Linked DNA regions of Homo sapiens. The protein of the gene in region 2 interacts with the protein of the main gene of each other region in a biochemical or structural test. Each region holds a gene or a part of one and is shown on either strand. Other genes may lie near its edges.

Evidence for each region.
Region 1: the proteins of RALB (region 2) and RGL4 form a complex in vitro, tested with the Homo sapiens proteins (one study listed by BioGRID).

The regions. Positions count from the first base shown.
Region 1 is NC_000022.11:23,693,875-23,699,812, reverse strand, and holds the end of RGL4 (ral-GDS-related protein), read right to left. Parts: coding exon 5,839-5,938; intron 5,695-5,838; exon of another isoform or gene 5,467-5,694; coding exon 5,363-5,466; exon of another isoform or gene 4,864-5,362; coding exon 4,794-4,863; exon of another isoform or gene 4,296-4,793; intron 3,398-4,295; exon of another isoform or gene 3,319-3,397; intron 3,200-3,318; coding exon 3,125-3,199; intron 2,643-3,124; coding exon 2,568-2,642; intron 1,976-2,567; coding exon 1,952-1,975; intron 1,602-1,951; coding exon 1,480-1,601; intron 1,259-1,479; coding exon of another isoform or gene 1,168-1,258; intron 970-1,167; coding exon 930-969; coding exon of another isoform or gene 700-929; 3' UTR 645-699; downstream 1-644.
Region 2 is NC_000002.12:120,283,700-120,290,981, reverse strand, and holds part of RALB (ras-related protein Ral-B), read right to left. Parts: intron 5,109-7,282; coding exon 4,900-5,108; intron 1,403-4,899; coding exon 1,225-1,402; intron 1-1,224. UniProt on the Homo sapiens protein: Multifunctional GTPase involved in a variety of cellular processes including gene expression, cell migration, cell proliferation, oncogenic transformation and membrane trafficking.

The DNA.
Region 1 (5,938 bases), on a different chromosome or scaffold from region 2:
TGTTTTTGTCTGATATCCCACAATGGGGGTTGTGTTCAAATTAAGCTGTGGGACATCTTTTAGATACTGAGTTCAAACAGTTCTCACCTTCCTTGATGTTCATTTAGGGGAGAGGTGTCAGAAGGTCTGGGAAGATCCACAGTGGAAAAAGTTTATCTGTATTTCGTGGAGACTGATGGCCAGCTCCCTTCTGCCCAGGACTTCTGGAGAAGGCCAGCCCTACCACTTGCTTAAATACCTCCCATCTCCAGCCCTTCAGTAAATATTTAAGTGATTTGTTAAATATTTAAACCTTAAGAAAATTGAGTAACCCAGTGGAACTTGAATTTAACTAGAATTTAAGTTTGAGAATAGCTGGTCAGTAGAACAAATGTGACATACTATGGGTGACATAGATTGGGTGACATACTATGGCTTTTAAGGGGTTTTGTTTTGTTCTGTTTGTTTTCTTAAGCAGAGTTAACAATAATTTGAATAAAGAAGGAAAACATTAAATGCTTGGCATGTGTAATGTGAATGCTATTCCATAACTTGTTCAGCCATAGCCTCAATTTGACATGCTAGGCTATGAATCCTAAAGACTGGTATATGGTTACCGCACTGGAGTTACTTTTCTCATTCCAACAACTACAGAACATTTTGAATAGTTTTTTAAAATTTTATTTTAACGAAAGTTAAGAAAAAACCCTTACTTATACACTAAAGAAAATAAACATAAAATGGTCTCCCGCCTGACTCACAAAAGTCCCATGGCCTGATCCTGGCCAGCAGGAGCAGTTGGTGATGAGGATCCAGGGCAAGATGCAGCTGAGCTGCCAGCCTCCTAGATGTGGTTCCCTGGTGTCTACGGTCTGGGTGAGGGATGGTGCAGAGCCGGTGTTCTGGCCAGCATCCCGGTGGGTTCCCAGCCACTGCAGGATGTTGCCAGCCTACGGGTTTTCGGGCTCCAGCTGGCAGGACAGCTTGTAGCTGCAGGACAGAGAAGCAGCTGTGAGGCCACCATGAGCCACACATCAGGTCCCCTGTCAGTGCCTGCCCAGCTGGAATCCTGGGTCCCCAGTGGTCCCCATGCAACAGGGCTTGATGCTGGCCGTGGAGGCATGGCCATAGGCTCTCTGCAGCTGGCCACGGGAGAGCCTCCTCTAGGCCAGGTGGGGTGGCTCACACCTGTAACGTCAGTACTTTGGGAGGCTGAGGTGGGTGGATTGCTTGAGGCCAGGAGTTTGAGACGATCCTGGACATCATCGTGAAACCCCATCTGTACCAGAACAACAACAGCAGAACAACCGGACATGGTGGTGTACAGCGGTAGTCCCAGCTGCTTGGGAGGCTGAGGAAGGACTTGAGCCCAGAAGGCAGACGTTGCAGTGAACAGAGATGGTGACACTGCAGTGCAGCCTGGGCGACAGAGCCAGACCATGTTAAAAAAAAAAAATGGAGAGCCTTCTCCCACCCTCAGCCCATGGGCTAGGCCCTCACCTCTCTTTGTCACTGAGCTGCTCCATTCTTGTGAAATAGGTGACAAATTTCTCAAGAGGCCGAAGCCTGTAATTCATGGCAGCCACTTGGAGCAGCTGCATTTCCTGCAGAACTCGGACCTCCTAGAGACAGAGGACAGGATGCTGACAGGGCCTGGGTGGAAGTTGCTGTGGGGGCCTTTGGCAGGCAGGGAGAAGGGGCTGGTCCCTGGGGCAGTTTTCTGAAGGGGTCCCATGCAGCGCCCCCAGCCTGTTCTCAGAGTTGGATATAAACAGCCCCTCCTGCAGGAATTGGTCTTTGATTCCAGTGCTTTTCCCATTTTCTCCTGGGATAGGTCCCCTCCTCCTGTGTGTGTCAAACACTCCCAGTAAGCCTAAGATGTAGAGGATGGAGCCAGGGAGTGTCCTGCCCAGGGTGGACTGTGACGTCCACATCCCCACCCTCATCCAACGTGAGTGCCCCAGCTGCTCACCTTGCTCCTCTTGTTGGTGTTGCCCTGGAAGGCAGACAGAGTCCATCAGAAAGGCCCCTGGCCCACAACCAGCCCCACCCCACCCCTTCCCATGCTGCACTACTGCCAGGGCCACCAGGGTCAGGGGATGTGCACACGACAGGACTTGGACCTGCCTCAGGCTCCGGGCTCTAGAGCAGGGGGAATGGGAGCTGAGGCCCAGGGACCTTCTGCCCCAACCCTCTGTGATGACAGACAGGGAAACTGAGGTCTCTCATAGAAAGAAAGCGCTCAGTGACCTTGGAACTGCCTGCCCTTGGAGAGGCTCAATTTCACCCTCCTATTACGGGACTACCCTAGGGAGAAGCTGAGCCCAGTTCAGCCCACACCTCAGCAGCTTTGCAGTCAGGCAGCTCTGCAGCTTCACCACTCAGGAATAGGGCCTGGTGGCTGCCATGGAGCCTCCATCACTCAGAGGTGATGAGATGGGCCTGACACCCCCACCCACAGGAGCAGCTGTGAGGCTCTTAGGAGAGGAGGTTTGCCAAGGGCTGAGATCTAAAGGCTCGGTCCAGGACCCTCTCCTCCCAAGCTTCAGGATCTTGGTTCCCAAGCACCCTGCCCCAGGCTCACTCACATCCAGGTCGTCCGGGATGGCCGAATCCAGCCTCTGTAACTCAGTCAGAAAATCCCCCAGGAAGGGGACCACACCCTGTGCCAAGGAGGGGTGGGGAGGTGGGAGGGGTAGTGGTGATGAGTATTGGCCCTCAGGTGCCTGCCCAAGGTCCTGTCCCATGAAATCCCATCAGCCCCTGTCTCCCAGAGCCCCCTCCTCAGGTCTCCCGGTTGGAGCAGCCAAAGACCCTCAGCTGCCTTTCCCAATTCTCTGCCTCCTGTATCCCAGCTGACCTCCAAGTCTAGCAAGCACTCCTTGTTAACCTCTATGGTGGGATTTTAACAAGTCACAAAGGCCTGTGGTCCCAGCTTTACCCTTCCCCACATCTAGTCTGAGTCCAGCTTTCCCAGACCCTTCCTCTGGTCTCTCAAATGAAGGTTTTCCAGGCCCAGTGGCCACAGGAGGACAGGGCTGGGGAGGAAGCCCCCGCTGTCTTGATATGGAGGCCTCCAGCTGGCGGGGAAGGGAGCCCTGTCCTCTGATCCCCTGCGGCCCGTCCATGCCACAGGCTCACTCACCTTCTTCTGCCTCCGCAGCCTCATCTGGACTCTCTGGGGGTTCCTCTCCTGGGTGGCCACCTTAAAGCTCCCCGCCTGCCAGGTGTCAGCGACAGGGACAGTGAGGCTCTCCTCCTCTCCCCCAGTTACACCCCAGCCACCCCGCACTTGGATCCCCAGGGAGTGGCGGGAGCCACCTGGCACCGTGCTCATACCACTGGCCCAGATCCACACTCCCTGTGTGTGTCACCCAGTCTTGCAGCCGGGCCTCCCTGAGACTGTTTCCTCTTCTGTAAAGAGTGATGCAAACCACAGCTACCTCACAGGGCCTCTGAGGGCTCAGTTTCCTGTAGCTGTTGCCGTTGTTCTCACCGTCATCCCTCTGAGGAAGAACCAGGCACGAGCACCCTCAAATTGCTTTCTTTTCTTGAACTTCATTTCTACCCTGTGAGGCCTGCACTACAGGCTCAGCATCCCTTCATTTTCCAGATGAGGAAACAGAGGCCCAGAGCGGGCAGTGGCTCCCCAGGGCCCCCAAAGAGAGGACGCCTCCTTCTGCTCCTGGAGGCTCCGTCTCGGCTGCCTTCAGCTCACATCCCAGCACCACCACCCATCAGGGTCGTGTTCTCTGGAGTCTTTGAGTGTCTAGGTCTCCAGCCACATACAGTCGTGATGGGAAAGGGACAGGGCATTTTAGGAGACCTGGTTAAGTGGCACCTGCCTATCCCAGCCCCACTGGAATCTCTGCCACGCAAACTGGGTTTGAGCCATGCCAAAGGCTTCGCCTCGCCAATGATCCCCCAGGGGAGTTCCGTGCACGGAACTCTCTCTTTCTCCACTGAGGAAGTAGCCTCCTGATGCGCCATCTCTGACTGCAATGGCAGGGTTTTCCAGAGTCCTGGGTGGGGTGACATGTTGCCTTCTCATTTGCATGGACGATTCTGAGATCTGGTCAGGGAGGATCCCCTAGCAATGTATGAATCCCCCAGATACTTGTCATGAGCATGCGTCGCTGCTAACCGGTGAGAATCCTCTGACATGACCGTTTTTGGGTGTCTGCAAAGGGCAGAGTGGGGAGTCCCAGCAAACAGCTACGTCTGTCCCCAGTATGCCCATTGGTACCCAAAGCTGGGCAGTTACTGGACTCCCTGCCACATGAGCTTCCTCTGTTGTTGTTCCCCCTCTCCCCCAGTGCAGGCCAAGGCCCCCTGCCCATGGAGGTGTGCTGCAGACAGCAGCAGCAGCAGCAGCAGCAGCAGCAGCAGCAGCAGAGGCCTGGCTTCCTGAGGAATTGCTGGCCGGTTTGAGGAAGGAAGGAAGTCCCACCTACCATGATCACCCTCCAGCCTGGAGGAAGCTCCATGCCAGCAGCATGGACCAGCATGGGAGCCAGAGCCCTGCTAATGCTGCAGCTCATCACCCCTGCTCAGCAGCCCAGCAGCCCAGCAGCCATTGCCACATCCCATTTCCAGGGCCTCCTGCCCCCATGCCCCCACGTGCCCATGGACCGACACACCACTCTTCCTGTTGGCCCAAGGTAGGCATGGAGGGAATTTTTCAAGTCCACTTTTAGTAGGTAAGTCAAAACCAAACAAAATAACCACTCGACACCTGGTCCAATGCCCTTCCAAACTCACTCTTTTCTCTGACCCTTAAACACTTGTCCTGCATCTCCCAGACTCCACTGTACCTTGATCAGTAGGTCCCTCTTCACTGCAGTGTCTTTTTTGCAGAGTTCTTTTAGCTCTTTCATGCTTTTGCTATGGGCAGAGGAAAGAAAGAAGGGTAAATTTGGGAATCAGGGGAGATTTGTGAGTTCCAGTCCCTTTTGTTTGAAAACCCAGTGAATCCCAGCTTACTGGGTGAGAGTTTTCAGTGGAGTCCTCTGATCACAGGGGCTCCAGAGGACCAGGGTGGGACCTCTCATGCTCCTCCCCTGGGCCCCATCTCCACTTCACATGAGCCACTGCGTGTTTACAGTTAGCTTTCAGCTGGACACAGAGTTCCACTGCTGGGTACAAACACCTGAAAGCCTCCAGTTGGCTCCAGTCTGTTCCTGATGGTTAAAAAACCTTAGTCCTGAGTTGGAAATCCTTGCCTAGGAGTCCAGGGCAGCTTAGTGACCACAGCCACCGGCCCATCCCTGCCTCCAGTGTCCCTGGACTCCAAGAACCTTTCAGAGTCATTGAGGGCACATGGGGGGAGACCTGTGAGTCCCTAGGTCAACCCTGATGCTGCCATGGAGAGAGCCCTCCTCACCTGGACACTCCTGCCCACGTCTTGTGTAGCTGACCTATTGGGTTGCTGCACAGAGCAGAGACGATGACGTGCACCGAGGAGAAGTTGTTGAGGCTTAGGCACTCCTGGAGAGGGAAGAATGAGCTGTGCGGTTCAGAGTTGGAGCTTGGCCCACTACAGCCTCAGCCCCCTCTGCTGAGATCTCCCCTCCTGGATGAAGCAGAGGCCTGGGGAGCCTCAGGAGGGCAGACCTGGGGCCGAGTGGATGTCACTCATCTAGGAGGATTTTAGTTCAACCCAAGGAAGACCCCAGGTCGGAAGTGAGCAGCCACCACTGGGCCGTGGGAGTCAAGGTGAGTGAAGCTCTGGCAAGAAGAGCCTAGGGGATGTGCAGGGTCCAGGCCAGAGATACAGATGCCGATCCTGAAAGCCGATGGAGGAGAAGAGGAAGTTCCCCATTTTTAAAGAGGGAATCCCCAGGCCCAACCATAGCTTACCCTGGCCACCTTGATCCAGTGCTCCACCACCCTGGCCCTGTCCCGGGCCCTCATGCTGTGGTCCCCGAGGCAGGAGGTGGTGATGCAGTTGGTGAGCCTG
Region 2 (7,282 bases):
GGATTCAGATGCTGATGCTGCAGAACAAAAAGCAGACGTGTCCACTGTGTGGCTGCCAAAGTGCTATGTGCTTAGATTCTACAAGCACATGGATATGCAGTGAGAGCTAGTGAATGAGGTCAAGGCAGAAAGCCTCATCTTTAAGGCACAGCGTTAAAATTTTAGCTGTGTGGCAACCACCTTGAACTTTAATTTTAAAAAGAAAAAAGGCCTAACAATAGCAATCCCTGATAGGTGGATTTTCAAATTGTCAGCATTCATCATTGTCACTCAAGGTCACCCTTTTATTAGCTTCAGAGATTTGAATGAGAAAGTATGCTGGGATGGGATAAGAGATAAAAAAAAAAAAGAGATCCCAGAGATTTGAGTTCTGAGAGCAAATACTATTTAGAGACTACACTACAAAGATGGAACACTGTGGCTCTGTCAGTGAACAGTAAGGTGAAAAGAACAAATCTGACCAATAACTCAATGAGAGCAAAATCAAGAAGCTCCACGTATCTTTCAAGGGCACCTCCAGGGGAACCTCCTAGAAGCAGCCAGGCCCGCCCACCCTGCTCCTGAAGAGCAAGGCTGTGGAAGGTGAGAGCACACACAGAAGCTAATGACGTCCATCCCTCCAGCCCAGCCTTCACAAACCAATGGCCTCGTCCCACCATCCTTCCCAGGACCACACCAACAGTAAGCATAGTCCGCCGGGTGTGGTGGCTCACACCTGTAATCCCAGCACTTTGGGAGGCTGAGGCAGGCAGATCACTTGAGCCCAGGAATTTGAGACCACCCTGGGCAACATGGTGAAACCCCATCTCCACAAAAAACAGCCAGTGTGGTGGTGCACACCTGTAGTCCCAGCTACTTGGGAGGCTGAGGTAGGAGGATTGCTTGAGCCCAGGAGGCAGAGGTTGCAGTGAACTGAGATCACACCACTCCAGCCTGGTGTCACAGTGAGACTTTGTCTCAAAAAAGAAAAACCCAAAAGAACACATTAAGCATACTCTAATGAAGCCTCATGACAAAGTAAAAGGTTCTGTGAGTTGTCTGAAATACAAGGTGACATCCTCTCAATGTTTCTCATTATAATCATGATAATGGCTTAGACATTCATAGGAATCAGAATCTTCACCTAGTTTTCATAAATGGTTCCCTAAAACCCAGCAGATGAGATGCCTCCATTCTGCTGTTTCTCAGGTCTGTTTCTGAGAAATACACAGAATTCACGCCTACCTTGTCCACGTTGGCCCGGGTCTTCGCTGACGTCTCCACGTACTGCACGCCCCACTCTTCGGCTTTACTCCTGGCCTCCTCCACAGGCACCTGCCTCCGCTCCTCTAGGTCAGACTTGTTTCCCACGACGAGCAGTGGAATTTTATCTTCTTCAGCCTTCACACGGAGAATCTGTTCCCTAAGGTGTTACACCAAAAATACAGCAGCTAAAAAAACTAAAGAACGAACCCTGGTTTTGTGAACCCATCTAAAATAAAAGGCTTTCCTAAGGCAGAAGGAAAAAAAAAAATCACTAGATTTAGGGCATGTTCTGAGAAAGCACTCCCTAGAGGCAGTCATGAGCAAGACAAGTGTTTTCCAAGTCTGCTTCTCAGTTTGCCCACATCAGAATCCCCTGGGATGCTCATCACAAATGCAGATTTCTGGGCTCAGTCTTACAGAAGTGTCTGGATAGGAGCCCAGGATTTTACGTCACAACAGGGTCCCCAACTTATGCACACACAAAAAAAAAAACAAAAAGAAGAAAAATGGTCAATCTCTGCAATAAAAACAAGCTAAGGGAACTATCTCCATAAAATGCTTAATTCCCCTGAAAATATTTGTTTGTGACATAAAAGCTATGAAATCCAGTGTTTTCTATATGGAAGGTGGCAGCCTATTAGTGGATCACAAAACCAATCTAGTGGGTCGCAACCAGCAGTTTCTCCCCCCTGCAGTGAAATAGATTATAGAACAGAACTGACCAGATCAGAAATATCCAAGGGAATCTCAAGTAGGAAAGGTGAATATTGTATTGTTTTGAAACTTCAGTTTTGATTAGATCTGCATGTGTACACGACAAGTATGTCATCCCATCCCCAGTTTCCATGCAGACACAGTAATGTTATAGGCCACAGAATCGAGACAGATATGTTAGGCAGTAATCACATTCCAATACGTACCATTTTTCTACTACAAAGTGAAAAAAATGAAAGGAAATACGACAAGCCCTATGGAAAAGTACTTCAAAAGTGTCTTCTACAAAAATACCATTACTCGTAGCATATTAAATTTTACGTCTACTAAAAATTATCAGCTATCTGAAAGTACTAATCAAAACTAAATATTTAAAAAAATTAAATACCCCATTTCCATTATTTTGGTCCCATGAGAATATTTCTACTTTTATATGCCAATACATTCTAAAAAGAGTCCCCTTCAAAAATGTATTTTGTAGAGATCTGTATTGATTTTTATATGGTATAGGGTAACATTTCACAATAATAAAAATATTTTCTAGGCGTGGTGGCTCACATCTGTAATGCCAGCACTCTGGGAGCCTGAGGAGGGAGGAACACTTGAGCCCAGGAGTTCAAGACCAGCCTGGGCAACATAGGGAGACCTTGTATCTACAAAAAAAAAAACAAAAAAAAAAACTAAAATTTTCATGTAGTCAATTTAAGTGCCAGACATCAAATATTTTAAGACAAACTAAAAAAGATGAAAAGATGCTTGAAATTGGCTTTGTGTAGCCTTGTTATAGCCTACATTTGAACTGGGGTCAAAGAACATGATACATTTGAAGTCATGTGATCATTATAAACTATGAACAATAAAAACTGATAGCTTTCTGGCTCATTAGTCTTGCAGGGGCACACAAAATTACCTCATTGATAAACATATCGATCCAAAAATGGGAGTACCAAGTTCTGGTCTCTTATGACAGAACTTATCTTAGTTCATAAAATATTTTCCAGAAAAAGTTTCAAGGAAGACAGCATATTCACATGTCATTTTATATTGGGGCCTTTCTATTTGGAAGATAGTACACAAATGCTGTTTTAAAACTGCTAACAGACATGAAGTAAAGTGACTTGAGTTTAGCCACAGGGCTCAGATAATTGACCTGCATTCTTCTGTTCCCAACAACATGAGAAACCTACGCAGAGGTCAACTTCCCCTTCTTTCTGGTTTTAGGTATTCATCTGTCCTTTTTCTTCTAAGGATCTCTCTTTCCACCTAACAACCAAAACCCTTTTCCACATTGAGGGGAGCCCTGCTCCAACTCTGTGAGAACGCCCGAGTGCTATCTGTGCATGTGTGGTGACTGAGGAGAGGACAAGGAGCACTTGAAATACCTGTATTTCTCCATATCCTCTGCAGAGAACTCTCCTGCCCACTTCCCTTCTAAGTAAGTCACAGAACAACAGGAAATCAAAAGGCTCGGGACAGGGAAGAAAAGAAGAGAGTGTGTGCATCTGTCCTGTTTTACCCTCTATGAGGCATTAAAAACAGGACTACGCAGATGCAAACAATTATAAATACATGGGCTACATTCAAACAGAGCAGCCCTTAGGAAGGTCTGAAATGTCTAAAAATTAACAGAACTTCTCATAATGAGTCATAGTCACTTAACTAGTCACTGCACCACACGCACTCTGCTTCCAGAAAAGTAGGTCTTCGACTCTGAAGCCTGGAGCTATGAAGCATCACTGAGGCACCTCCCTATTATCTTTCACTAGCCCTGCTGGGTGACCTGTGCTCACCCGAGGCCTCCCTGGCTCAGTGATGCTTCCATCCAAGTCCTGGAAGGATAGCTAGCTTTCTCCTTTTCACCTCTGGTTGACCACCTTACTGTCAGACCAGAACTTGCTGAAGAATGAAAAAAACTGATTTGATTTTTGGGTTTTTTCTCTTCAGTTCCCTACTAAACTCTAGATCTGCTTCTTAAAAAGTCATCTAGATAGATATGTTTATAAGAAGAACAGATTTTTTAAAACTCAATTATGTAGGAGAAAGGGAAGGGCATGGGGTAAAGAGACATTTATAGAGCATAAGAATTATGCCCAAAAGGCTATTTCTTTATAACAAAATGAACTGAAGGTATTTTTTTCACTGCTATATTTTCTTTTTCTTTCTTCTCTAACACCTTCATGGAGAATAGTTGCCATATTTTAAAATAAATAACAATGGATATTCTACTCACTATGGAAGCACCATGTGTCTACACTGTGACAGGGGACAATGGAGGGTAGCCAGGTTCTTGCCCACATGAAATTCACAGTCTAATACATCCTTTCATTTCATTTCTCAACTCACAAGTGCATTTCCAGAGAAAGAAACAAAATCCTGACACTAAGTAAACTTGCCCATGGTCAGTGAGCGGCAAGGCAGGGATTCAAACCAGGTCTCCTGACTCTAAAGCCGCGTTCTCGTCCCTCCACTGTGCTGAAAGTCCTTAAGTAGCAGCAAATGGTCATTTTGACTCCCATCTTTCACTTTCCAGTCATTGTTTCATAACCTTCAACACAGACTAAACCTGCTACTTTTTTTAGTAACATTATTTAAAGGATAGATGGTTAATTTATCAATGAAAATCTCTGAGTATTTATAGGAACAAAATTATATGTTCTTGATTATATGGAATAGCTTCATTGTTTTCGGGGACAGTAAGACTCTTAAAATTATTTTATTCAGAAATCACAGATCAGGAAAGCCCAAAGAGATTATAATCATCATAGTCTATAATGTGCCAAGATTCAGAAAGCCCCAGAAGATTCTTTAGACAGAATTATTCCTGAGAACAAGCTCAGCCCTCTCCTAGTATGCTCAGCCCCAAATTCTTCATAGGCCTAAGACATATGAGAAAAGGCAAAAAGCTTCCTGGGGGCTTCTGCTATTTCATTTCAGACATACCTGAATTCGGCAGTTGCTGTAAAGGATTCATGTTCTGTGATTGAGAACACAAGAAGAAACCCTTCCCCACTCCGAAAGTAGTTATCTCGAATGGCTGCGTAGTCCTCTTGCCCAGCGGTGTCCAGAATATCTATCTGAACTTCTTCCCCATCAAGAACCACTTTCTTTCTATAACTGTCAGCTTTGGTAGGTTCATAGTCTTCTACAAACTGAGGAAATAAACATTATCGGTAATTAACAAAGTCTTAAGGGGAACAAAATCTGCCAAAAAACAAAATTCCACATATGGGCACTTCACACTATGAACAGGACACTACAGAAGCAACATTTTACGTAACACTTCTGTTCTTTATAGCTCTGTTTTGCCATTTTTTGTTTTTAAACAATACAGGCAGATATCCCAATTTACAGATGAGGAAACCAGGCACAGAGCAGAACACTTGGCAATATTATTGTCAGTATAAAATTTTAATGCAAACACCTGCAAGGGTGAGAAACTGGAATTCTTTTTTAATTATACTTTAAGTTTTAGGGTACATATGCACAATGTGCAGGTTTGTTACACATGTATACACGTGTCATGTTGGTGTGCTGCACCCATTAACTCGTCATTTAACATTAGGTATATCAAAAAACTGGAGTTCTTATTCATAACGGAAGTATAAAATTCATCTGAAAAGTAATTTGGCAAGATGTATGATATGGTCTGGTTCTGCATCCCCACCCAAATCTCATCATTTAGGTTGTAATCCGAATTATCATCCCAATGTGTTGGGGAAGTGACCTTATGGGAGACAATGAGATCATGGGGGCGGTACCCCTATGCTGTTCTTGTGATAGTGAGTTCGTTCTCACAGGACCTGATGGTTTCATAAGGGGCTTTTCCCCACTTCGCTCTGCACTTCTTCCTGGCGCCTTGTGAAGGACATGTTTGCTCCCCCTTCTGCCATGATTGTAAGTTTCCTGAGGCCTCCCCAGCCCTGTGGAAGAAAAGAGGCTATACACCTCTTTTCTTTATAAACTACCCAGTCTTGGGTATTTCTTCACAGCATCAAGAGAATGAACTAACACAGTGTACCAAGAGGCTTTCAGTGGTGTGGGTTTTTGAGAAAGGAATGAAGTAGTACCAACGCACGCTGCAACATGGAACAACTTTCAAAACATGATGCTGAGTGAAAGAAGTTAGACATAAAGGCCACATATTGTATGATTCCATCTATATGAAATGTCCAGAATAGGCAAATCCATAGAAGCAGAAAGCAGTTGCCAGAGGCCAGGGGTGGGACGGGGAAGCAATAACGGGGAATGACTACTAATACGTAGGTTGGTTTTTTTTGGAGTGATGAAAGTGATCTAAAATTAGATAATGGTGATGGTTGCACATCTGTATGAATATACAAAAAAAACCTATTAAATTGTACACTTTAGGCCGGGGCAGGCAGATCACCTGAGGTCAGGAGTTCGAGACCAGCCTGGCTAACATGGTGAAAACCCATCTCTACTAAAAATACAAAAGATTAGCCAGGTATGGTGGTGCACACCTGTAATCCCAGCTACTCAGGAGGCTGAGGCAGGAGAATCACTTGAACCTGGGAAGTGGCGCTTGCAGTGAACCAAGATCGTGCCATTGCACTCCAGCCTAGGCAACAAGAGAAAAACTACATCTCAAAAAAAAAAAATTGTACACTTTAAAAAGAGCGAATTTCATATGTGCATTACATCTTAATAAGGCTGTGATTTAAAATTTTTTTAACTTAAAAATGGAATTGAAAATGTCCAAGTGAATTAAAGGTTATTTGAGGAAGACTGTTAAAAAGAGCCTTGTATTGTCAGTTAACAGCTACTCAAAAATAAAAATATTAAGACATGTTTAGTATTAGGTTCTCTTCAACGTGTACTAATAAATTATCTCCAAATAGAGATGTGAAAACTTGCCTGTGCTTTCAAGTGTCCTTCTTTTAACTCCTTTCCAAAAAGAAAAATACACGCCAAAAAAATCCAACACACGACTGTCCCCTGAAAATCTCTGAATTCTACCATAAATTATCTCAACTGTATATTTCTGAGCTTCCAAGGATAAAGCCAGCCAGAGTTCCACTGGCTCCTTTGACACAGAAGTCAGAATGTCCTGCTGTACCTACATACCTCTGTACTCAATGAAAAGTATGCTGATTACCCCAACATTCCATTACAACCCTGATGTTTATTTACATTGCTCAGCTGGAAACAGAAAATCACAAAGTCTTTGTATCCATTAGCGTGAACCATACGTATCCCCTACTGGCCTTGCAGAGCTCTGCATGGCTCAGTTTCAGATGCCCAAGAGTCTAAGACAAACTTCACGTGGACCCTTTCTTTCTAAGCTGACTTTCCTCTAAGCTGC